4 linked regions of the Homo sapiens genome follow. The protein of the gene in region 1 interacts with the protein of each later gene in a pairwise test. Each region holds a gene or a part of one and is shown on either strand. Other genes may lie near its edges. The genes, in order: CAMK2B, SPRYD7, TNPO2 and ZMYM5.

Evidence for each region.
Region 2: the proteins of CAMK2B (region 1) and SPRYD7 interact in binary tests that used the Homo sapiens proteins (3 or more experiments, as listed by UniProt).
Region 3: the proteins of CAMK2B (region 1) and TNPO2 interact in binary tests that used the Homo sapiens proteins (3 or more experiments, as listed by UniProt).
Region 4: the proteins of CAMK2B (region 1) and ZMYM5 interact in binary tests that used the Homo sapiens proteins (3 or more experiments, as listed by UniProt).

What each region holds. Positions count from the first base shown.
Region 1 is NC_000007.14:44,322,588-44,330,127, reverse strand, and holds the start of CAMK2B (calcium/calmodulin-dependent protein kinase type II subunit beta), read left to right. Parts: upstream 1-4,533; 5' UTR 4,534-4,706; coding exon 4,707-4,771; intron 4,772-7,540. UniProt on the Homo sapiens protein: Calcium/calmodulin-dependent protein kinase that functions autonomously after Ca(2+)/calmodulin-binding and autophosphorylation, and is involved in dendritic spine and synapse formation, neuronal plasticity and regulation of sarcoplasmic reticulum Ca(2+) transport in skeletal muscle.
Region 2 is NC_000013.11:49,933,301-49,941,357, forward strand, and holds the start of SPRYD7 (SPRY domain-containing protein 7), read right to left. Parts: upstream 3,041-8,057; 5' UTR 2,936-3,040; coding exon 2,830-2,935; intron 1-2,829.
Region 3 is NC_000019.10:12,720,933-12,728,223, forward strand, and holds the start of TNPO2 (transportin-2), read right to left. Parts: upstream 3,001-7,291; 5' UTR 2,837-3,000; intron 2,434-2,836; 5' UTR 2,317-2,433; intron 1,629-2,316; exon of another isoform or gene 1,545-1,628; intron 1,328-1,544; exon of another isoform or gene 1,202-1,327; intron 59-1,201; 5' UTR 46-58; coding exon 1-45. UniProt on the Homo sapiens protein: Probably functions in nuclear protein import as nuclear transport receptor. Serves as receptor for nuclear localization signals (NLS) in cargo substrates.
Region 4 is NC_000013.11:19,822,982-19,825,649, reverse strand, and holds the end of ZMYM5 (zinc finger MYM-type protein 5), read left to right. Parts: intron 1-414; coding exon 415-1,173; 3' UTR 1,174-2,168; downstream 2,169-2,668. UniProt on the Homo sapiens protein: Functions as a transcriptional regulator.

The sequences.
Region 1 (7,540 bases):
TGCACACAGGCCTGTGTCCATGCTGGGAACTCCAGGCTGGTAGCCAGGCTTTCTGCTTTAGCACAGCCTTTGTGCCTGCAGTTGGAAGCTACACAGGGTGGGATGGAAGGGGCCTGAGTGCAGAGTCTTCTGACACATGCTAGGAGGCCATTTCCACGATGACAAATCCCTGGTGTCCACTACAGGGAAGGAGGATCTGGGAGCCACTTATGGGCCATCTGGGACCTGCTCCTATCAGCCTAACTACTCCTAGCTGCTAGATATACCTGCGTTGGGGGCCTGCCTGGGCTGGGACAGTGCCTGGACTTCTGGGGCCTAGGGCCTGAGGCAACTCCAGGAGGATGGAGGTGACACCAATGAGGACAGCTAAGGTGGGGTCAGTCAGGAAGGGTCCACCTCGCCTGGTAGCCAGAGAGTGCCAGGGGTGCTCCAGGGAGCCCCAGCCAGCAGAGGGGGGGGTGGCCCAGAGCCTCAGCCTGGCAGCAGACTTAGCAGGGGTTGCTCTCACTTCCCTCCCTTTGCCCAAGGGCACAGTATCTCCGGGACAGGTGCTGGTGTCCAACTTATGCTTGGATGCTTGGTGAGAAGGGAGGAAGTCTAGGGGGTTCTCACCCTATGTTCTCGGGCCAAGCCTCTGAGCCAAGCCTGTGGATGCTGCTCCCGGCCCAGGGCCATAATGGTTAGTTGGCTTTATCACTTTGCTTGTTAGTCATCAAGGTGGTTCCAAATCCCTTGGAGGACTCAGGTGACATCTGCCAATAAGCCACTGACAAAATGCCCTTGCTGGGTCTGACTGCTTCACCCTCTTCCCCACCGTCTTCATTCCCTAAACACACCAGCTAGTGCCTGCCACAGGGCCTTTGCATGGCAGCCTCTTCTGCCAACACCCTGCCCTTTGGCTCTCAAGGGTAGCCTCTCTGTTTCATTCAGACTTCAGCTTAGACATCACCTCCTCAGAAAGCTCTTCCATGGACTTCCACTCTGAAGTTGCCACCCTGTCACTCTCTAGCACACCACTTTGTTTTAAATCTACATACAACATGAGTACTAGATGCATTCTTGTTTGCTTGTTATCAAGCTCTGCAAAGGCAGAATCCTTTTCTATCTCATTCCCTGATGTGACTGAGTGCCTGGACAGAGCTGGGCACACAGTAACTGCACAAAGAAGGCTGGTGGACACCCCTAAGCAGGACACAGTGGTTAAAGGAACCAGCCACAAAGTCAGGCAGATCCAGATGCCAATACTAAACTAGCTGTCTGACCTGAGGCCAGTTAGAGTCTGTGTCTCAATTTCCTCATTTGTAAAAGGGAGGCAATGATAATGCTATGAAGTTTATTCAAAATGGTGGATGTTGGACTTTTAGAATGGTTTAGGGCAGGTGATGAGTGAATTGTAAATTGTAGCTATGGCCTTCATCATCACCATCACCATCACCACCATCATCATTGTCACCAACACCATCATTATCACCACCACCATCACCATCCCCACCACCACCACCATCAGCAGCACCACCATCACCACCACCATGACCATCACCATCATTGTCACCAACACCATCATTATCATTATTACCACCACCACCAGCACCACCATTACCATCATTATCATTATCACCACCACCACCACCATCATTACCATCATTATCGTAACCATCACCACCATAGCCACTCCATGTGCTTGCCACTGTGTCCTGTATGGGCTGCCATGTCAAGGGCCAGATGATGGGAGATGGATGGACTAGGGTCTTCCTGCTCTGGGAACCACAGCCTGCTCTCCCTGGTGGATGGCTGGGCCTGAGAGAGGAGGTGCAGTGACACCCTTCCACATGACAGCAGTCCCTGGAGGTGAGGGGGACAGGGGAGGCGTGGCTTTCTTTGGGATAATGAACCCCATGTGCAGCACTTTTGGCTCTGCAGATGTGATGCTTGTTGCCATGGTGACCGTCCTAACAATAACCTCCCAGAACTGATATTCCCCACACCCTCCCCAGCTGCCACCTGGGAGGGAGAGCCCTCCTCGCTTACGAAAGCAAGCTTGAAAGGACAAGGTGGGAGGCAGAGATGACACGGGGGTTGGGGTGGAAGTGGGCCCTTCCTGAAGGCAGGGGTGGGAAGAGGGGGAAGTCTGGGCCTCTCTGACCAGAGCCAAAGCCAGATGAGAGGGCTTCTGGAATCTGGGACCAGAGAGTCATGGCTGGAAGTCTTTCTCCCTTCTACCCATTTTCCTATGATAGGGAGAAGCCGTCTGGGTCTGAGGGTGGGGACTGGGCTGTTTTTTGAGTGTTAGTGTGGGGTCAAGCTGTCTGGGTAGGGACAGTCTGGCTGCCTCTGATAGCCCAGCCCTTCCCCACTGTCTGGTGCCCAATCATGCCAACCTTCCTGCGCTCGCCAGGGTAGCTCTGCTTCATACCTCTAATATTTCAGCTCGGAGGAGGGACTGCCTGGGGGTCCCAGGTGCTAACAGGTACAAAAGGCGGGAAGAAGTATAGGATACAATGAATCTCAAATTGCATCTCTTAGTGACCCCACATTCTTGTGTAACCCTGGTCCTGGGCAGCTTCTCAACTTTTGAAAGGTGACCTCGGCCGGGTGCAGTGGCTCATGCCTGTAATCCTAGCACTTTGGGAGGCCGAGGTGGGTGGATCACCTGAGGTCAGGAGTTTGAGACCAGCCTGGCCCACATAGCTGGGGCTGTGAGCCACTGTGAGCTTGTTACAGGCGTGAGCCACCGTGCTTGGCTTGTTATTTGTATTCTGTTGTGTGGCCCTACCTCGTCTTTCCAGAGCTCAGAAAGGGAAAATATGGATGCATCCAGCAGGTGCTGGAAGAAACTCCTGTGGGGTTAAACACAACGCCAAGAACAAACCTCAGACTTGGCCTCCAGTCCTTTCTCGAGCCCATGCCAGTCTGTCTGTTAGGATGGCCCAGGATTCTCTGAGTCCAAGTCTGACATAGACGGGGTCTCCCTTCCTGCTATGGTCCTGCTGAAGTCAAGGCCAGGATCCCTCTGCTTCCTCAGCTGGGGACTTCCCCAGGTGGCCCAGCATTTGCCTTTGGCCTGAGAATTTCTCGTCCTCTAGTGTCTTCTGGGTGCAGGTGGGTCGATGGCAGGGACTTGTTGCCGTGTGGTCTACTAATTGCCCAGCAGTCCCATGCCAAATGCATCCTGGCCCAGAAGGGCCCTGGCTGCCAGCACTCAGAATGCCTTTATCCCCTCCCTTATCCACATGACATTTATTGTGGCTTCTGGGGCTTGCCCTGGGCTGGCCACGAGGTGAGAGGGATGAGCAGGATAGGCCCAGAATTGGTCCTTGGGGAGCAGTAAGGAAGTCATATCAGGGCAGCAGCGTGACCCAAATCCAGAGCTGGCTGCTGGAAACCCCCTCCTCAGAGCCTGCCCAGGATGGACCCCGTCAGAGAAGAGTGTGGGGATGCTGGAGCCCAGTGGTCTAAAGTCCCGGTTCTGGACAGCAGCCCTGGTGCCAGGCCTCAGGGAAGGCTGTTTTGTGGGAAACCGGGTCGCCCTGCCTCCTGCCTGCCTCCCTGCACTCTCCTCCTCCTTGGCTGCTTTCAGGAGGGGGTTGGGGTGTGTGGGCCCTCCTCCTCCAGGCAAAAGCAGGGGGCAGGCAGGTGGACCGTGCTGGAAAAGGAGAGAATGTGCACCTTTACCTGATCAGGGTGGCTGTGAGCTCTCAGGCCCCCCAAATTGCTGGTGGAGCAGCCCCTGTTCCCCTGGCTCAGGGTCCGTTGGTCTGGACTCCGAATGTTGCCTCCTGGGACCTCCATTCCAGACAACCCAGCAACCAGTCTTTGGAGAAGTGAGGGGGAAGGGAGGGGCTGGGGCCAAGGGGAGGGGGCAGGCCCCACCCTTTCACTTTCTCATGCTAGTGACCCAGTGTGTACACTGCCTTCTGGGCGGTTCCTCCTGGCCAGGCAGCCTTTGGGGCATGTGTGGCTGATGGAGACTGGGCAGAAGGGATCTGGCAGCATCTCTTCCTGAGGGTGTGAGGAATGAGTCCTGTGGAGGGCAGCACATGAGCCCTCTACCTCCATGTGGGCCCCAGTCCCCTCCTGCTGTCAGGCTAGGTGGGCCTTCGAGAGAGAGAGAGGAGGCTGCGTTCATTATGTGCACTCTTCTGTGTTATGTGAGAGCGAGGGGTCGGCAGCAGCAAGTGGCCTGCGTGCGCGAGGTGCGGGCGTGGTGCGGGTAGAGGATGAAGGCGTCAGTACAGGGCGCGGGTGTGTGTGTGGGGTGCGGGGGCGGGCGGGGGCGGGCGCGCGTGTGAGTGCAGGTGCAGGTGCAGGTGCGTTGCGGGTGCGGGGCAAGGGTGTGTGTGCAGGGCGCGTGTGCAGATGCAGGGCGCCGGTGCCCTGCGGGTGCGGGTGCAGGAGCAGCGTGTGCAGGGCGCGGGGAAGGCGCGTGCAGGGGGCGGCGGGCGGGGCGGGCGCGGCGGCGGCGGCGGTGACAGCGGCGCCCGCGCCTCCCCGCGCGTAGGTGTGCGGCGCGCTCCTGGCGAGGACGGAGCGAGCAGATCTCGCGTGCGCTCGCCGCCCGGCGCAGCCCAGCCCGGCCCCCGCCTGGCGCCGCGAGCCGAGGTGTCTCCCGCGCCCGCGCCCGTGTCGCCGCCGTGCCCGCGAGCGGGAGCCGGAGTCGCCGCCGCCCGAGCGCAGCCGAGCGCACGCCGAGCCCGTCCGCCGCCGCCATGGCCACCACGGTGACCTGCACCCGCTTCACCGACGAGTACCAGCTCTACGAGGATATTGGCAAGTAAGAGCAGCGGCGCGCGCGGGCTGGGCCGGGGACCCCAGAGGGCCGGGACCTCCGGGACCCTCCGCGCCGCCGGCTCCAGGCGCACTGCGGGCCCGCGCGCCGCCGGCTTCTCTGGGCTCCGGGCCCAAGCGCACGGCCCCGCGCGGCCCCGACCCGCGAGCCCCCGGCCCCGGGCCTGGCTGCCTGACCTCAGCGCGCGCGGCCCTGCCCAGCTCTGCCCAGCGCGGCTGCCGGGCCGGGGCTCCGGGCTCGCGACTTGGCGCGGCGGGGGCGGCAGCAGGTGTCCCCGGAGCGCCCGGCAGACGTGACGCATTTGGCGGCGGGGAGGTCAGAGAGGAGGGGCGCGCGGGGGTGGCCCCCGGGCCTGGAGCGCCGGGAGGGGTCGGCTGCGGCCCCAGAGGGTCGTCCCCGACGCGGGTGCGCTGTCCCCACCCCCACCCGAGCGGCAGGCGGCGGGGGTGGCGGGACCTGCTTGCGCCTGCTCCTGCGCGTGGCCCCATCCGCGCTGGGGGTGCCGGCGTGGGAGAGCCTCTGCTGTAGGTCCCCTGGGGAATCTGGGTTCTGGAGGATTTTCCCCCAGATTCTTCTGGAAACAGGAATTTGGAGGTGTGGGGAGGACGAGGTCAGGGAGCCTGGATCAGGTCATGGGGATAGCGGGGAGAGACTAAGAGCCTGACTGGATTGCAAATTTCAGGGTCATCGAGGTGGATGGGGGCTGGATTTTGGACTGTTGGCGGGGGCGCCCTAAAGGGGAAGGGGCTTTGAAGGTTTGTTTGAAGTGGGACCTCACGGGGAACAGGTGCTGTGGCTCCCGTTCTCTCCTTGGCAGTATGAGCAGTGTAGGGCGAAGGTCTGGTTCGTGGTCCCCGGACCCGGCTTTGCCCCTGGGGTGAGATGGGGAGCGCCTCAGGGGCCTCCTGTCTGGCCTGGGGTCTCCCGTTCTGAGAATCAAGGTGGCTGCACCTGGCATCCCTAGGGCTAGCTTCAGAACTCCTGAATCTCCAGCCTGACTGGGCCAGAGCCCCATCCTCCTGCGTCCTCCCCCATCCTCCTCCGTCCCTTCAGTGCAGGCGGTGGGGGCGCTGGCGGTGCTGGCGAGATTTCCTCTTACACATCCAGCAACAGATCCTTTTTTTCCTTTACTAAATAAGTGTCTGGTGAAACCTTGTGGTGGGTGAGGGACGCTGATCATTGATAATTGTGGAGTGCGGAGCTGGAGGAGTGTGGGGGTGTGTTCATTCCCCACTTCTCCCTGCACGTGTGGAGAGAATTCTGGTAGGGGTTAGGGATGTGGAGCCCAGCCCTGCAAGAAGCCCATGCTGGATGGGTGGGGTGGGGGGCCAGGCTGGCTGGGGGACCCTTCCTTGGGTGGATCTGGAGAGCACCACAGGGCTGAGACCTCGAGGGAGAGGGCGAGCCCAGCCCCCTTCATGCGGATCCCTGAGTGGGTGGCTGGCTCCCCGGTCTTCACCCCTCAGATGCACCGATCTACCCCCGTCTGTCCTCTTGGCCTCCAGAGGTGTCCTGGCCACTGGAGGGGCAGGTGGGTGGCAGTTAATGTGCCTGGTTCTCTGAGGAAGAGAGCAACAGTGGGAAGTCAGTCTTTCCTCAGGAGCCTTCTTGTTGTCTTTTCTGCTTGCGCTCAGAAGCACAGAGGCCCTCACAGCAGGTGTCCCTGGTCTTCTCCAAAGAAGCCACTTTCAAGACCTCCCCATGTGCACCCAGTGTCCTCAGACTGCAGCTCACTCTGGCTGTTCCTTCTTCCCTTTGCTGCGAGCCTCCCTGCGTCCAGCGGCAGTGTCCGGGTGGCCAGCTCCCCGCTGAGCCTCCGATTCCAGCGCAGCTGGATGTCCTGGCCAGTGCCACCCACACTGGGGAATGGAGGTCTTTGGGGCTGCCTGGGGAAGGTTGAGAGAGGTGGCTCCAGAGGTGGAGACCAGGTGGGGCTAAGACTGCTGGGCTTCTCTGTCAAGCCAGAGAATGAGCTGCTGCTGGAAAGGAGCGAGTGTGGCCTCCTGAGCGAAAGCACTGGGAGCCATGCATTGCGAGGTGAGGAGTGGGGCCTGGCATCGAGGGGAGCCCCATGACCTGGGACAAGAGGAGATGCCCAAGCCAGGAGCAGGCAGCTCAGCCTAGTGCACCTTTGTGGAGCCCTGCTAGGCGCCGGGTCCCTGGCGACGCCAAGGGCCTACCACTGCCCTGCTGTGGCGGCTCTTGGGTAGGGAAGGGACCGATTCCTCGGGGGTGCAGCCGTGCCATAGAGGTGGGCCAGGGAGCTGGGAGGGCAGAGCAGGGCACCTAAGGGGGATGTCTGAGGCCAGGGCTCAGTTGTGGGCACTCAGCCCATTTGCAGCGCTGGGGTCCCTTGGTTGTTATGCTGGCTGGTTGTTGACAGTGCCTGCCCAGGGCACAGTTGGTGTTGCTTCCTGGCCCCAGGTGGACATGTCCAAGTTTATTTAAAGCTGCAGCCACTGGCACCCAGTCAGGTGGCGCTGAGCTCCCTGCCCAAAGGAAGGGCTTGGCCTCAGGCCCACAGCTGCTCATGTGTGACGAGGCCACTGGCCTTTCCCCTCCCTTGCCCCATCCTTTTCTGCTGTCTCTGCTCCCGAATCTTCCCCAGAGGCCTGGGCAGCAGGGTCAGCCAGCCAAGAGGGGCCGCTTTCTGGGGCCCTGCCCTGCCCAGCTCTATAGGGAGTGTGTGCCCTTCCCTGCTCAGCCTGGCAGGGCTCACAGACACTAGCCTGGTGGCCCATGTGGGAGCAGGTA
Region 2 (8,057 bases), on another chromosome or scaffold:
ATGGGATATAACACTCTTGGCCAGGCGAGGTGGCTAACACCTGTAATCCCAGCTCTTTGGGAGGCTGAGGCAGGCAGATTACTTGAGGTCAGGAGTTCAAGACCAGCCTGGCCAACATGGTGAAACCCCCATCTCTACTAAAAATACAAAAATTAGCCAGGCATGGTGGTGGGCGCCTATAGTCCCAGCTACTCAGGAGGCTGAGACAGGAGAATTAATTGAACCCAGGAGGCGGAGGTTGCAGTGAGCTGAGATCAGGCCACTGCACTCCAGCCTGGGCGACAGAGCGAGATTCCCTCTCAAAAAAAAAAAAAAGAAAAAAAAAGAAAGAAAGAATATTCAGGGTGTTTATGAGTCATTAGGGAATCATTTTAAGCTTATCCCATTTCTCTTAAGTACACAGACGGTTTTAGAATCTGTACTTTTAATGATTGGTGCTGCTTAGACGGTCAAGGCAAATTTGAGTACAGCCAGAATGCCACATAAACATAGCCACAGAGGATGTTTTAAGAAACATAAATTTCCAAATGAGCGGTGTCCCTTTCAAAGTAGCTGCCTTGGAAGTCATTTGTTTCTAAAATGTCGATTCACAATTAAAAGCCAAAGATATGGCATCAATGATAATACTTACAAAAATTATGCCATAGAAAATTCCAAAAGAGGAATTCCAAAGTGGTTTTAAGTAATACAACATCACTAAAATAAGTGACAACCCTCGGAGAATCACTTGAAGTATACAGACAATTTTGTTAAAAAAAAAAAAGCAATCACATTTTTTAGGTTATTTAATATAATAATCTTTCACACCACCAAATCCATGTGTTTCTATTTTCAAGTCAAGATCAATTCATGCTTGAAACATGTTCTTCTAACTCAACAACCCTTTTCTTTCATTTTATTCAGGTTCTCAAATCAGGCTCCTCTGTGATTGAATAATTTAAGTTTATAGAAAGACAGGCTAAGAAAAAACTTCCTGGCCGGGCGTGGTGGCTCACCCCTATAATCCCAGCACTTTGGGAGGCTGAGAGGCAGGCAGATCACGAGGTCAGTTCGAGACCAGCCTGACCAACATGGTGAAACTCTGTCTCTACTAAAAATACAAAAATTAGCCGGGCTTGATGGTGGGCGCCTGTAATCCCAGCTACTCAAGAGGCTGAGGCAGAAGAATTGCTTGAACCCGGGAGGCGGAGGTTGCAGTGAGTGGAGATTGTGCCACAGCACTCCAGCCTGGGCAACAATAGTGAAACTCCGTCTCAAAAAAAAAAAAAAAAAAAAAAGAAAAGAAGAAGAAAAAACTTCCATGCAGTTAGAAAATTTGGAGATGACATTACTCTATTTCATCCAGTTAGTAGCTGACAGTTGCTGGACAGCTTTGGAGAAATAAAACACAGTGGAATGAGTATATCTGACCAGCTCTTCCTAGAGGAAACAGATGACAGAGAAAAGGAATGCTCCAAAGAGGAGACTGCAGTAATTCAAGAGTCTAACAGTAAAGATAGGAAGAAGTGCTGCAGTTGATCATGAGTTCCAGGAATTATGTATGGTTGTCCTTCACTATATTCTCAGCACTTATAACAATGCCTGCCACCTGATAATTGCTTAATAAATATCACTTCAGTAAATGAGTAACTGAAATGGAAATATTTTCTGAGGAAAACTATAGAATTTGAACTCCATCGTCTATAAATAATGATGGATAAAAAATAATTTAAAGATTACTTATGTATTAAGGTTCTGTACTACATTTGGGAGATCTGAGAATTAAAAGTAAATACACACATACAAGGTGATTATATAGTTATCACATTTAGTATGTGTTATACAAAAATACAGTGGGCAGAGTGTTTCCAGAATTATAAGGAAACTGGGCGAGAGAGTTTTATCATAAATATTAAGAAGTGCCTTTTTATTTCAATGCACTGTCCTTTAAACAATCAGAAACGTGTAAAAAATCAAAAGTGCAGAAGTACAGTTAGAATAAAATAATCCACAAAAAGACAGTACTCTAACTGAAATAATTATATTGGGAAATCTCTCCTTCTAGAACCACATTCCAGAAGCATGAAACTACCTGGGAAAAGTCTAAGAAATAATAAGGTGGTGAAAGAGGCTATGATGGGAGAGGAAGAATGTTAGATAAATTATATGGATTTGGAATTAAAAGGATAAAGCAAGATGCAAAGGAGCAAAGTGCTATTTTATTTTTCAACAGTTAGACCTGTTGGGAAGAGGCCAGTCAGATGAAATTACAGTACCTCTCACAATGACTAAGGAGTCGGGCAATGGGAGGTTTTAGTTGAAATGGCAAGTTCTGACCTGAGGTGCGACTTCAGACTTCTGCAGTCTGCCTTGTTTCGACTTTAGGAGGTGAGAGGAAAATTACTTCCAATAATATAGGATTCAACCTATAAATGATGGGGCTCAAGAGACAGGACCGACAGTCAGGGCAGGAGGAGGAGCAAGACCGGACCTAGAAGCATTCTGAAAATGTGTAGGTTTTCACTGGGGCGCGCCAGAAGGGCACTCTCCGCCCCCTCGCCCGAGGACGTGTGACATCTCCGGAGGAAGCCTCCGAGATTCCTGTGAAAATGGGAGGTCCACACGCCCATTCGCGATGACAGACACAGAGAGGGCTGCGCAGCCTTGAACACAGAACCGGGCCCAGGTGGAGTCCGCCGGCTTCTGGAGAGATCTGCGAGACGAAATGGTGTCGGCGCAGCGTCGCCGGCGCGGCGGGGCAGCGTGGGGACCCTCTGACCCTGAAGGTCCCCCTGCCCGCCGCGCCCGGCCCCCGTGAGCCGTTGGGTCTGGGGAAGGGAGGGCCCTTACCCATGTGCTGCGTGTCCAGCTGCACGGCCGGCATCTCCTTCAGAGGGATGTGGCCAGTCCCCCCGTCTCTGCAGCACCGCAGGCAGCACAACACCGAGGTGGCCATCGCGCAGGGACCACCGACTCCGCCGCCGTCCCTAGACCGAGGCGACACTGCCCCCCGCCGCTCAGCTCCGTCTCCTGCCCCCGCCCGAGGTCCGGACTTGTCTATGTGGAGCTCGGAGGCCGGTACAGCGACACCCTAGGCCGGGAGGGCGCAATGCAGGCTGAGCTTAGGCTGGCCTGCGAGGAAGACGCGGAGAATCAAGGGGCCGGGGAGAGACCGGACAGGGCGAGCGGCCGGGCTGGGCCGGGGAGACGGGTGGGGCTAGTGGCGCGCGGAGGCGTGGCAGGGGGCGTGGCGTTGCGGGCCTGCGGATGTGGGACGGCGTGCGCCTGCGCACCAGCTGGTTTTTTCTCCTTGGGCGGTTTCGCGCACGCCCCCAGGGCTGACAGGTGAGTGGGGCTGTCTGTCCCTCAGTACTTCCAGGGGTTTTCCTATGCAGAATTTTTAAAACGCAGCACCCCTTGGTCCCGGCCTCGACATTATTTCTAGGGATGGATTGACAGAAGCGAATCAGTTTGGGGGAAGGGGAGCTAATGGAAATGACTTCCGAGTTTTCCCTCCGCGGGCCCAGGTTGAGCAGGCTTTGCCACCACGGAGAGCCCCAGTCTCCCTGCCGTGGCTGGTTTCCCTCACATGCTAAATAGACTCACGTGGGCCCCAGGAGTAATGCCTGTTAGTGACTGCACTGTGGATGTTCACCGGGGCTCACGCGGGCCCTAATGCATTTTCGGTGCAGAGACGCGCCCTACCTGGCCCATCGGGCTGCGTGGTCCGGGGCGCGTGGGAGGCCGCCCTGGGAGCAGAACGCTGGGGCGGGGTCGGGGGCGATTCTTGACCTGCCTCTTCCAAGCTCCCCCTGTCTGGTGCACTGAGGGTTCCGAGGAATGTGACGGGAACCCAGGAGGCTGCGGGAAGTCTGCTGGGTCCCGAGGGAAGCCTTCGGCTCCTACCGTCCGCTACTTTCTGCTTCCACACGGGAGGCTGTCACCTGTCATCTCCTTCCCCACTTAGATCATCCTTCCGTGGTAGATTTTACATCTTCAGGCCGGGTGCAGTGGCTCACGCCTGTAATCCCAGCACTTTGGGAGGCTGAGGTGGGCGGATCACCTGAGGTCAGGAGTTCAAGACCAGGATGGCCAACATGGTGAAACCCCGTCTCTACTAAAAATACAAAAATTAGCTGGGTGCGGTGGTGCACGCCTGTAATCCCAGCCACTCAGGAGGTTGTGGCACGAGAATCGCTTAAACCCGGGAGGCGGAGGTTACAGTGAGCCTAGATCGCGCCACTGCCCTCCAGCCTGGGCAACAGAGACTCTGTCTCCAAAAAAAAAAAAAAAAAAAAAAAGATACCGCTTGGCATCTGGAAATGTCTGGGACGACCTCTAGAATTAACCTAGCTCAAACCTCTGTTCCCAGATCAGTTTCATCCTGAAGGCTTCCCTAGGGATGGATCATCAAGTCCTGGGAAACTGGACATAAAATGCCCACTACTTAAATAATGATTTCCCATACGTAACTTTTAGTGACCCGAGTTATAAATGTTTTTTAAGGAGGATTTCTATCTATGCAATGAGGGGAATTTTTCAGGTTCCTGGTTCTCTTTCTATAAATGGTGTTTTCATTACAATACTAAGGGAAAGTTTTGTACGTTGAAATTAAGTTACCATAGAATTTAATAACCAAGGTGATTATTAAACTGATTGAGGGTTGGTCTTTTCCCCCATTGCGTATGCAGTACTTTCTTGGTAATCATTTCACACAAGAAATTTTCTTTTATGACAAACCTTCATCGTTATGCTGGGAATTAAGTGCTTTGATTTTTTTTTTTTTTTTTTTTTTTAACCCCAGGGAAGTGCTGGGGGCGGGGCAGGGGGTGAGAATTTTAACAGAATATTGGAGAGACAAAATTTTTCTACCGTTCATATATATATATCTAGTTGAATTATTTCAAGATTTCAAGGTCAGTATTGTCCCCATTTTATAGGTGAAGAAATAGGCCTAGAGGTACTAAACTTTACAACTTCAGGTGAGCAGGAGATAAACAGGTAGGATTCAAGGCTTACCAGTCTGATTCCTGTTAGAAGAAAAACTTCAGCTGAACTAAATTTAAAGGAGTTAAACTGAGCAGTGAATGACTGGGCAGCCCCCAGAATCACAGCAGATTCAGAGAGACTCCAGGGATGCCTCGTGGTCAGAACAAATTTTTAGACAAAAAGAGGGAAGTGACGTACAGAAATCAGCAGTGAGATACAGAAACAGCTGCATTGGTTACAGGGGGGCGTTTGCCTTATTTGAACACAGTTTGAACAATCAGCAGTGTATGACTGGTTGAAGTATGGCCGCTGGGATTGGCCAAGACTCAGCTATTGTTACAGGTGCATACTCCTAAATTAGGTTTTCAAGCTTGTCTGCCTATTAACCTAGGTTACAGTTCGTACACAAGGACTCAAATACAGAAGTACAGAGTCCTTCTCAGGCCATATTTAGTTTGCTTTAACACTGCCTCTCAAATTCTTTCTCTTATAATTAATGCTATAATCCTCTTAAACATGCTCTCAGTTCAAAATGCAGATTTGCCCTTTTTTGTGTGTTTCATTTATCTCCACATTGGATATAAGCTGCCATAATGCATGTATAGACAAAATATAATAGAATTAGTTGTTATAAAGTAAAAATTTTGTTCAGAAATATTATTAAAAGAAGTACATGTATTATATATGTAATAAACATTTAGGCCATTCAAGTCAGTCACATCTTCAATGAAAAGCCAGACACTAAATGGCCGTGAATTGGACATTACTATAGAGAGGCAGAAGGGCCATAGTCTTTCCTAGCTGGAAAAGTAATTTGCTGGGGCGCTGCCCGGTGCACTTTGCCCCCATCCTAGCAACTCGAGTGTGCTCAGCAGAATGAAGTTAGCAAAACTGGTTAGCTCCTGAAACAGACTTCCCTGTCTTGGCAGATTAACACCATCCATGAGCTCACTTTTCCTTCTAATATCTGGGATTCTAATATCCATTCATTATTACTTTCAAAGGAATTATCCTCTCTTTTTGAAAAGCACAACGTTAAAGATGTTTTGACACTCTTTCACAGCTATCGCTTTAAATAACAATCACAAATAAAGCCAAAAATAGTTTCTCAAGGTCATTTATCTAAGTCATAAGCAATAAGAAAGAATGACTACTTCAAAAAAAGAGTCTGTCTGCTTCCAAGACATGCCAGGAACTCGAGAACTGAGAACAATAATGTAAAGCTTGTGTTTCAGAGTTGAGATTAGCATTATGCTTAAGATTTTCTTTAATGTTTTTTATGCCAGCTGGACGTCTTCTGTTAGTGAATTTCCCATTCTGTACTGGGTCATACGAAATGAGTTTTTAAAAACTCATTAATCAGTTATTAAACAAAACATTTTTCCTTAGACTAATCCAAACCACATTTGTGATCTTTTTAAAAATCAGAAACATTAACAAAAACTCATTTTTCTAAAAACTGACATATTTCTGGAGCCTTGACCAATTCATTATTATAATTTTGAGTAACTAATAGTGATTGACATTTATGTAGTGCTTATTATTGCCAGGCACTGTTCTAAGTGTTTTTTAAAAATAAACTAATTTAGTCTTTGTAACAACCATGTGAGGGAAAAACTATCCTCCACTTTACAGATGAGGAAGCTGAAGAAAAAATAAGAAATGTACTCAAAAGTTGCACAGTCAATGAAGGATGAAGCTAAATTCAAACAGACATTCTGGCTCTAGGGTCTGTGTTCTTAACCACTCTGCAAACTGCCTCCTAGGGTGTTACATTTAAAAATACATTCCTAGGTCTGGTGCGGTGGTTCACGCCTGTAATCCCAGCACTTTGGGAGGCCGAGGGATATGGACTGCCTGAGCTCAGGAGTTCGAAACCAGCCTGGGCAACATGGTGAAACCCTGTCTCTACTAAAAACAAACAAAAAAATTAGCCGGGCATGGCAGTGTGTGCCTGTAATCCCAGCTACTTGGGAGGCTGAGGCAGGAGAATCGCTTGAACCCAGAGGCGGAGGTTGCAGTGAACCAAGATCGTGCCATTGCACTCCAGCCTGGGTGACAGAGCAAGACTCTATCTCAAAAAAAAAATAAAAAAATAAAAAATGAATATACATTCCTAATTTGTATTTGTCTCCTTCTATCCCCTTTCCTCAGAGACTGACATTTAAATTTACTTGGCATGAATTGTGCTCATTTAATCTGGATTTCCTGAATTATAAGTTATATTACCTAGATTGAACAACCAAAAATAAATAAGGAAAATAACGTCAACCTTGTAACTGCAACAGACTGCCATTAGTTGGTTCTCTTAGCGGTGCCTTTGAATATTAATATTTTGCAGGTTTGTCCTTAACAGGCTGTCTCTACCGGAAAAAAAAAACGATATTTAGTACTTTTTTTCTTCTTTTTCTTTTTTTGAGACAGGGTCTCACTCTGTTGCCCAGACTGGAGTGCAGTGGCACCACCACGCCTGGCTAATTTTTTGTGTTTTTTATAGAGATGGGGTTTCACCATGTTGCCCAGGCTGGTCTTGAACTCCTAGGCTCAAGGGATCCACTCACCTTGGCCTCCCGAAGCGCTGGGATTATAGGCATGAGCCACCCTGCCTGGCCTGTTTAGTACTTTTTTTTTTTTTTTGAGACAGAGTCTTACTCTTGTCGCCCAGGCTGGAGTGCAATGGTGCGATCTCAGTTCACTGCAGCCTCTGTCTCCTGGGATCAATCGATTCTTCTGCCTCAGCCTCCTGAGTAGCTGGGATTACCGACGCCCGCCACCACAACCAGCTAATTTTTGTATTTTTAGTAGAAACGCACTTTGGGAGGCTGAGGAGGGCGAATCACCTGAAGTCAGGAGTTTGAGACCAGCCTGGTCAACATAGTACTTTTAATTGCTAAGACAGGTAAACCAGGTTGGAGACTTGGAAAATGCAGAGACTTGGCATTAGGAAGAAAAAGAAGCTGGGGTAAAATAAAGGAATTTGAAAAAGGTACAAAAGAAATAAAAATAGAACAATTTTTTTAATATTTAAAATGAAGAAAAAGCAATAGCAAGTGCTACATAAAAAAGGTCTCAGAGAATAGAAAATGTGA
Region 3 (7,291 bases), on another chromosome or scaffold:
CTGCAGGACCTGCTGCAGGCCCTGCTCGTCTGGCTGCCAGTCCATGGCGCAAGGCAAGCTGCGGAGGTAGGGGCCGGGGTCAGCGCTGGGTCTCTGGGGCTCCGTGTGAGACCCAGGTGGAGCCCCTGAGGCCGCGGTGGCCGCATGACGACGGGAACGCCCTCGGCGGACAGGCGGAGGCCTCCGATCCACGCCCGCCCAAGTGCGGGGTCCCCGCCAGCTGCGCCATCCTCGGCCGCGCAGTCGCGGGCTCGGGAGCGCGGGAGGGGGGATGTGGAAACGGGCCACAGGCGGCGGCGGCGGGGCCCGGCGGATCCTCATGGGACCCAGCGAAGAGCCCTCGTCCCAGGGTGGCCCATGCCGCTGACCCCGGCTCCGAGCCCGAAGGCTTCCACCTCCCTCGCAGCGGCTGGGCGAGGGCCCAGCCGCCTCCACATCCAGGGGCCCCGCCCCAGACCGTGATAGCGCCCCGGCCCCCGTGGTCTCTTCTATGCAGGCACAGTCCCTGAAGAGTCCCCTTCCCCCGACACTCTGCCCTTAACTTCTGCCAGATCCCAGAGGCCTCCTGCCCTAGTCCAATTTCTGAGCTTCCCCAGATGCGCCCTCCCAAGACGATCGTCCTGATCTCTCCTGTCCCCTGTTCCTGCCCTTCAAGCTCAGTGGATGCCAGATATCCCCCTCTGTGGCCTAGCCAAATTCTAAGGATTCCCCTTAATCAGGCCCAAAGCAGTCCCCAGGTAGGTCTCTGCTGCCTCTTCGAATGAGAGCCAGCCAAGCCCGGCCAACCCACTATAGGAGCCCCCTGGACCGATCCCAGTCGCCTTCCCCAATCAGGTCTGGCCAAGCCTCTCCCTGAAATTCCCTCCGACCCTGTCAGCAGTAACCCCTGCTGACGGATCTCTGTTGCCTCTCCCAGTCAAGTTCGGCCGAGCCCCCCACCACCTCGTGTCAGTAACCCCCTGGTCCGATCCTTGCAGCCTCCCCCAGTTCGGCCTGGGTAAACACCCCCCGGGGCATTCCCCTCAACGGATCCCAGCAACGCCTCGAAGTCAGATCCAAGAAAACCCTCTAGGCCGAAGTCTGACGCCCCTCCCTGTCAGGACCCAACGAGCTCCCCTCCCCCCACCCCGCTCAACTTTTCAGTGCGGCCTCCCCCAATCAGACCCAACCAAGCCCCACCGAAACAGGCCCCTACACACACCCGATCCTCGCGACGTCCCCCAATCAGGCCCCAAGCAGTCCCCAGACGCTTCCCCCAATCAGATCCCCTCCAGCCCGACCCCAGCAGTCCCACTGGCCCTCTTCTTGAGGAGCCCCGACATGGCCTGGCTCCGAGGCCCCACCCCCTAAGCTCTGCTCGGTTCCCCCCTCCCCCGCCCGGCCCGTTCTAGCTGCCAGGAGGATCGGGCCCAACCGGCTTCCCGGCCTTTCCCGGTCGGGCGCGGCCCCGACGCCCGGGCCGCGCGCGGCGCAGGCTCGGTGCCCGGCGGGGGTCGACGCAAGCCGGGGCCAAGAGGGTCGGGCTCTGAGTGAGGCCCACTTACCCGGCCCCGGGCAGCAGCGGCGGCAACTCGCGCTGCGGCTTCTCCAGAGACTCGCGCGGAAGGAGGGAGCCAAAGAGAGAGAATTAAAAAAAAAAAAAAAAAAAAAAAAGAAAGAAAGAAAAAAAAAAAAGAAAAACGCGGCCGTAGGTGAGCCGCCGCGGCTCCCGTACTCCGTTCAAACTGGTCCCGCCGAGCCAATCGGAAGGTTCAACCTTCACACGTGCCCTGGCACTTGGGAAACCCGGGCTGAGACAAGGTCCGGTCACGTGACCAAAGAGTTGCCGTTTCTTTGGCCTCTCTAGCCAGCCGGTCCTCCCAGTGTCTCGTTTTCCCAGCATCTTTCACTGACCTGACCGCAAGCTCTTTAGCTGGAGCCAGGAGTTTGGTAGCGCGTGGGGACTTTGTGTGTGATGGATCCAGGAACCCCTCGGCCAGAGCCAGCACCCTCCTTGTCACCTTCCTCCACTAAAAATTGAAATGTGCCTCCCTTCCCCCATCCAGAGGTACTTGGGAGGAGTACGCTGTGTGTGCGCAAGGAAAGAGCTGAGCGTGCTCTTTATACCCCAGAGACAAAGGAAAGAAAGCAGGACAAAGTAAGTGCCTGAGACAAGCCGGGTTCCTACAGAAGCCTCTGCCACTTTTTGCATTATTTTCCAGTACTGTTTGATAGTTTTTACAAGGAGATGAAAAAGCCACAAGGATATAAATTTTTGAATAAAACGAAATGAACTAATAAAATAAACTTTGAACCACGCCTAATCCCTTTCCCTACCTGAAGTTGAATGAGGTGGAACAGCGCAGGAAATTCTGGCAAGGGCAGGGTCATGAAGAAAGAAATCTTCTTGATCCTTGCGACGTCTGAAGACAGTAGGGCACCGTTTTTCCTTCTCTTGAGAGAGGAGCAGATGGTAAAAAGCTGGAGACCCTGTAGCGTCTTGGTTTCCCCTCCCTGCCCTGCCGATAACAAAGTGGGAGACCTCCTGCCACTTGAAGCCTCAGTTTCCCCACTTGTCAAATGGGTATAAGAGCAGTTCGCGCGATTAGAGATCATCCAAGTTAAGCATGACCTGGCCAGCTCTGAATTGTTCCTTAAAAACGTGGCTTTACCCTCCAAGGCTCAAGGCTGTTCTTTTACTGTATTCAGCCCCTCCCTAAGCCGATATTTAATGAATTCACCAGCTCTAATCCCAAAGAACAACCCACCCTGCCCTGAGGAACTTTTTGACCCTCGAGAGAGGCAGAGGTCAATTTTTGCCCCTGCCTGAAGGAGGGGAACAGCTATCTCAACCCACTTGCCGTAGGCAAAGTCAGTCCCGGCTCCGTTCATTCATGAAAATCAAGTCCCGGGCCTCCAAGGTTAGGGAAGTGTCGGCAGGCGCCTAACTCCACTCGGAGAATCGCGGAAGACACCCTAAAGGAGCAGTTGGGATTCCGAGGTAGCCAGTTCCGCTGGACTGAAACCTGGGCTGAGAAACACGTGCAGAAAGCCGCCACCAAGGCATGCGTAAAGGCCTCCCTCTCCCCCACCCTCCGATAAGCCCTGGAACTACAAATCCCGTCCTGCCATGCGCCAGGGTCGCCGCGCTTTGGGGTTTTGGCTGAGACTCAAATTGGCAGGAGGGTCTCTAGACCAACCGAGGTGCATGGGGAGCAGAAGAGTGAGACTGGGGAGCTGGGGCTGGATTTGGGGGTTCCTGGAGCGAGTGTGAACGATAAGAGCTTTCTGGTCAAATTTGGGGGCTGCCCCAGATAAAGATCAGATGGGGAGCGAGTTTGGGATGCAGGAGACAATTTGTTAAGGTTCACCCCCTTCATATAATATGGCAAATTTTCAGCGGCCCTCCGCAAGCCTTGGGGCAGAACAAAGTAGCCCCTGCTGCATGTGTGGTCCACATTGTTGGCCCTTGTGTGGTCACGGAATTTTTTCTTCCTCTCCAGCTGGTGAATTTGAGTGTTGAATCAGGACAAGGTTTTGGGTTTTTGTTGTTTTGTTGTTTTTGTTTTTCTATTTCTTTGTTTTGTTTTGTTTTGTTTTTGAGACGGAGTCTCGCTCTGTTACAAGGCTGAAGTGCAGTGGCGCGATCTCAGCTCATTGTAACCTCCGCCTCCCGGGTTCAAGCGATTCTCCTGCCTCAGCCTCCCGAGTAGCTGGGATTACAGGCATGCGCCACCACGCCCGGCTAATTTTTTTTAATAGAGATGGGGTTTCACAATGTTGACCAGGATGGTCTTGATTTCTTGACCTCATGATCTGCCTGCCTTGGCCTCCCAAAGTGTTGGGATTACAGGCGTGAGCCACCGCGCCTGGCTTTTTTTGTTTTTTTGTTTTTTGAGATGGTGTCTTGCTCTCATTGTCCCGGCTGAAGTGCAATGGCTCAATCTCGGCTCACTGCAACCTCCGCCCCCGGATTCAAGCGATTCTCCTGCCTCAGCCTTCCGAGTAGCTGGAATTACAGGCGCCTGCCACCACGCCAGGCTAATTTTTTGCATTTTTAATAGAGATGGGGTTTTGCCATGTTGGCCAGGCTGGTCTTGAACTCCTGACCTCAGGTGATCCACCTGCCTCGACCTCCCAAAGTGCTGGGATTACTGTGCCCGGCCCAGTTTTCCTATTTCTTTCTTTCTTTCTTTTTTTTTTTTTTTTTTTTTTTTTTTTTTTTTTTTTGAGACACTGTCTTGCCCTGTCGCCCAGGCTGGAGTGCAATGGTGGGATCTCAGCTCATTGCAACCTCCGCCTCCGGGATTCAAGCTATTCTGCCTCAGCCTCCCGAGTACCTGGGACTACAGGCACCCGCCACCACACCCAGCTAATTTTTGTATTTTTAGTAGAAACAGGGTTTCACCATATTGGCGAGGCTGATCTTGAACTCCTGACCTTGTGATCTGCCCGCCTTGGCCTCCCAAAAAGTGCTGGGATTACAGGTGTGAGCCACCGTGCCTGGCCTTTTTTCCTTTTTTTTTTTTTTTTTTATTTTGAGGTGGAGTTTTGCTCTTGTTGCCCAGGCTGGAGTGCAATGGTGCAATTTCGGCTCACCACAACCTCTGCCTCCCGGGTTCAAGTGATTCTCCTGCCTCAGCCTCGCGAGTAGCTGGGATTACAGGCATGTGCTACCACGCCCTGCTAATTTTGTATTTTTAGTAGAGACCGGGTTTCTCCATGTTGGTCAGGCTGGTCTCGAATTCCCGACCTCAGGTGATCCACCTGCCTTGGCCTCCCCAAGTGCTGGTATTACAGGCATGAGCCACCATGCCTGGCCTTTTTTCCTATTTCTTAAGCACCTACTGCATGTCAAGTGGTTTCCAAATGTTATCTCATTAATACCGGATGTGGTGGCTCATGCCTGTAATCTCAGCACTTTGGGAGGCCGAGGGCAGATCACGAGGTCAGGAGATTGAGACCATCTTCTGGCTAACACAGTGAAACCCTGTCTCTACTAAAAATACAAAAAAATTAGCCAGGAGTGGTGGCCTGCGCTTATAATCCCAGCTACTCAGGAGGCTGAGGCAGGAGAATCGCTTGAACACGGGAGGCGGAGGTTGCAGTGAGCCAAGATCACACCACTTCACTCCAGCCTGGGCGACAGAGCGAGACTCTGTCTCAAAAAAAAAAAAAAAAAAAAAAAAGGCCAAATGTTATCTCATGCAAATCTCACAACAGCCCTATGCCTGGCAAACTTACCCTAGTTCAATTAGAAGCTCTCTGTGCCAAAAGAAACTCACAGAATTGGTGTCCAACCAGCCGGGCGCGGTGGCTCACGTTCATGCCTGTAATCCCAGCATTTTGGGAGGCCGAGGCGGGCAGATCACAAGGTCAGGAGATCAAGACCATCCTGGCTAACACGGTGAAACCCTGTCTCTACTAAAAATACAAAAAAAAATAGCCAGGCGTGGTGGCGACCGCCTGTAGTCCCAGCTACTCGGAAGGCTGAGGCAGGAGAATGGCGTGAACCCAGGAGGCGCAGCTTGCAGTGAGCCAAGATCGCGCCACTGCACTCCAGCCTAGGCGACAGAGCGAGACTCTGTCTCAAAAAAAAAAAAAAAAGAATTGGTGTCCAACCGCGAATCTGAAATGTGAGACAAACGTGTTCTCAATTTACAGCAGCCTCCCTTCCCAAGCCTCTCATCACACTGTCCCCCGAGTTCAAAGGTCAGCACTTCAACTAACTTAACACAGTCCCCAAACGCAAGCCAACTTCTTCACCCTGGAAAGCACTAGCTGTTTTAAACAATGGCAGGGTTAGATTCTATGAATATTGCCCTTACTTTAGAACTTGACTCTAGAGATGCTTCTTTATTTTACCCCTATTTGATAGATGAAGAACCTGAAGTACAGAAAAGCTAAGTGACTTACCCAAGATCACACAGTCAACAGGCACTAGAATAGTCAGAAGCCAGGGCTGTGTGACTCACCAAAACCTGGATATGATTCTCCTCCCTCTTCAGACTTTTCTCAGGTCAGAGCAGGTAAGTACTGTAAAGGGATGTGCCTGGACTTTCAGCCTCTCCTGCCTCTTGACACTAGAATAGAGGCTGAGATGCTGCAGGGCGACCTACTTCCCAGGCTTCTGTTGCTTTTTAAAGATCCAGTCTCTGCTGGTGGCTTTGGGGGAGGAGGAGGTAGGGATGGCTCCATTAGCTTCCTGTGTTCCCTCCCCCCATACTCCACCCCCAAGGCCAAAGTCACACCTGGGCTAGCTTAGCATCCCCAAAGTAGGAGGGAGAGACCTTTCAGCCCACATGCAAAGTAAAGCAGAAAAACCTTATTGTGTGTTAGCAGGAAGCGAAAGAGGAAAGGTATCCTATTCTTTTTTTTTTTTTTAATTTTTTGAGATGGAGTCTCACTCTGTTGCCCAGGCTGGAGTGTAGTCACTGCAACCTCTGCCTCCCCAGTTCAAGCGATTCTCCTGCCTCAGCCTCCCAAGTAGCTGGGATTACAGGCGTGGGCCACCACCCCCAGCTAATTTTTGTATTTTTAGTAGATAGGGTTTCACCATGTTGGTCAGGCTGGTCTTGAACTCCTGACCTTGTGATCTGCCCGCCTTGGCCTCCCAAAGTGCTGAGATTATAGGCGTGAGCCACCACGACAGCTAGGCTGTTTGTTTTTTTTTTTTTTGAGACGGAATCTCACTTTGTTGCCCGGGCTGAAGTATAGTGGCACAATCTTGGCTCACTGCAACCTTTGCCTTCTCAGATTCAGGACATTCTCCTGCCTCAGCCTCCCGAATAGCTGGTATTACAGGTGCGCGCCACCACGCCCGGCTAATTTTTTGTATTTTTAGTAGAGACAGGGTTGCACCACATTGGCCAGGCTGGTCTCGAACTCCTGGCCTCAAGTGATCCTTCTGCCTCAGCCTCCCAAAGTGGTGAGATTACAGGCGTGAGCCACCACGCCCAGCCAACTTTTATTTTTTGTAGCAAGAAAGGTCTTGCTGTGTTGTCCAGGCTGGTCTCGAACTCCTGGGCTCAAGTGATCCACCTGTGTCTCGGCCTCCCCAGTCACTGGGATTACAGATGTGAGCCACCATTCTTGGCAGGGCAGGGTTTTTGTCTGTTTAGGTAGCTGACTTCACATAGCAGATGCTCATCATTTGTTACATGAGTCAGTGCTCCACCCCAACCTGCACAGACTGCATCTGGCAAAATCTGAGAGCCTGTGGTGTACCGGGGTAGGCCCACCTCAGCCCACTCCCAGGACCACAGCCCTGTGCCTTCCACCCTCTACTTGCTGAGGCCGTGTTTCTCTGAGT
Region 4 (2,668 bases), on another chromosome or scaffold:
TTTGGGACAGGGTCTCACTCTTTCGCCCAGACTGGAGTGCAGTGGCGCGATCTCAGCTCAGCTCAACCTCTGCCTCCTGGGTTCAGGCGATTCTCCTGCCTCAGCCTCCAGAGGAGCTGGGATTACAGGCGCATGCCACTGTGGCCCGGCTAATTTTTGTATTTTTAGTAGAGACAGGGTTTCACCATATTGGCCAGACTTGTTCTCGAACTCCTGACCTCAAATGATCCATCCACCTTGGCCTCCCAAAGTGCTGGGATTACAGGCATGAACCACCGCACCCGACCGTCGTCGTCTTTTTGATTGGCATTTCTTTGATGCCTAATGATGAGCATGTGCTTATTGAGCATTTGAATATACATTAATTTTTAAAAGTTTAACCTAAAATAAAATTATAATCCTCTTTGTCCTCAGATGATGGAAACAAAATCAAAAAAATTAACAGCATCAGAAAATAGAAAAAGGAATGCTTTTAGAGAAGAAAATGAGAAACAATTATATGGATCGTCAAATACACTTTTGAAAAAAATAGAGGGAATCCCAGAAAAAAAGGAAAAGACTTCACAGCTACAGCTTTCAGTAGAATGTGGCACGGATACATTACTGATCCAAGAGAATGTGAATTTACCTCCTTCTTCCACGTCAACCATAGCTGATACATTTCAAGAGCAACTGGAAGAGAAAAATTTTGAAGACTCCATTGTACCAGTTGTGCTTTCCGCAGATCCAGGTACGTGGCCCCGAATTTTGAATATTAAACAACGGGACACTCTTGTTGAAAATGTTCCGCCTCAAGTAAGAAATTTTAACTTTCCAAAAGATAATACAGGGAGGAAGTTTTCAGAAACTTATTATACACGGATTCTTCCAAATGGTGAAAAAACCACTAGATCCTGGTTACTTTATTCAACCTCAAAAGATTCTGTGTTTTGTCTATATTGCAAACTCTTTGGGGAAGGAAAAAATCAACTGAAAAATGAAAATGGGTGCAAAGATTGGCAACATTTATCACATATTCTTAGTAAACATGAAGAAAGTGAAATGCACGTCAACAATAGTGTTAAGTACTCAAAATTAAAATCTGATCTGAAAAAAAATAAAGCTATTGATGCTGCAGAACACAGATTATATGAAAATGAGAAAAATGATGGTGTGCTGTTGTTGTACACGTAATATACCTGAGTTGTTTTTTGGCATGATGATCAGAATCTTACATTACTCAGAAAACATCTGTCCTGCAATAGTCAGTACTATTGTGTTGTAAGTCTCCTCTACAGAGTAACTTGCAGCAGTTCCTTAGCAATAAGTATGATAGCAAATAAATAGCAAAGAATGTTTCCATTCTAAATCTAAAACTAATTAGATTCAATCATCATTAGGCAATGACTTCATTAGGCAATGAAGATTAACAATAGGTAATTGTTAATCTTCAAAATCTATCAATTTACACCTATTTAAAAATTGGCATTTAATGACTGCCATTTGATGGGTTTGGTTAATATTCTGTTCTTGGCCGGGCGCAATGGCTCACGCCTGTAATCCAAGAACTTTGGGAGGCTCAGGCGGGTAGATCAATTGAGGTCAGAAGTTCAAGACCAGCCTGGCCAACGTGGCAAAACCTCGTCTTTACTAAAAATACAAAAATTAGCCAGGTGTGGTGGCACACACCTGTAGTCCCAGCTACTCAGGAGGCTGAGGCAGGAGAATCGCTTGAACCCAGGAGGCAGAGGTTGCAGTGAGCTGAGATTGCACCACTGCAGTCCAGCCTGAGCAACAGAGCGAGAGTCAGTCTCAAAAGAAAGAAAAATATTATGTTCTAATTACCTTGAAAGAGGAAAGAAAGGCTTGAATTGATCAATACCAGTTTGAATAAGATACTTATGTGAACAAGCATTCTCAACATTATTATTAAAGTAAAACTACTCAGTTTACAGAATGGGATCTGAAACTACAGCTTTTTGCTATTAAACCAAATACTTGTGATCTACTTTGTTTGAGCAAAACAGCATTATTTGTTATGTTAATGATGGTTAATTTCCATTTTATTGGTTTTATGTTTATTTTAATTTGTAAATGTTTTAGCATTTATTATTGTATGTGAACTATATTTACCTATTTTATGTTGATAAAAATATAAAAAATATTAAAATAAGTATATATTAAGTTAACCTTCAAGTGTTATGGGCTTTTTTCTCCCTGTGAAAAGAGATGGCATGCTTGAAATTTGAGATACACCAATGAAAATTAAGGATTTAAGTTATTTTAGATGGTCAGCAGCCCCATCACTGTGTATTTAGTAAATCTCCCTTCTGTTTCTGATTTCTGATGTCAATTTTGTAATATATTAAATTTTTATATACTATTCCTGTGAAACAAAATGGCATATGAGCAGTGACTAGGACAGAAGGTGCGTTCTTGTGGGATGACACTAGGAATACTTGCAGACTCTCAATGATACCAGTGTATATATTTTTGGAATACCCGTGAAAGTAATCCTCATTAACTTCTAACCATTTTGAGTGTTTGTTTGTTTGTTTGTTTTAAATAAAGATGGGGTCTACTATGTTGTCCAAGCTGATCTTCAACTCCTGGTCTCAAGCGATTCTCCCACCTCAGCCTCTCAAAGTGCTGGAATTACAGACTTGAGCTACTATGCCCAGCCACCATT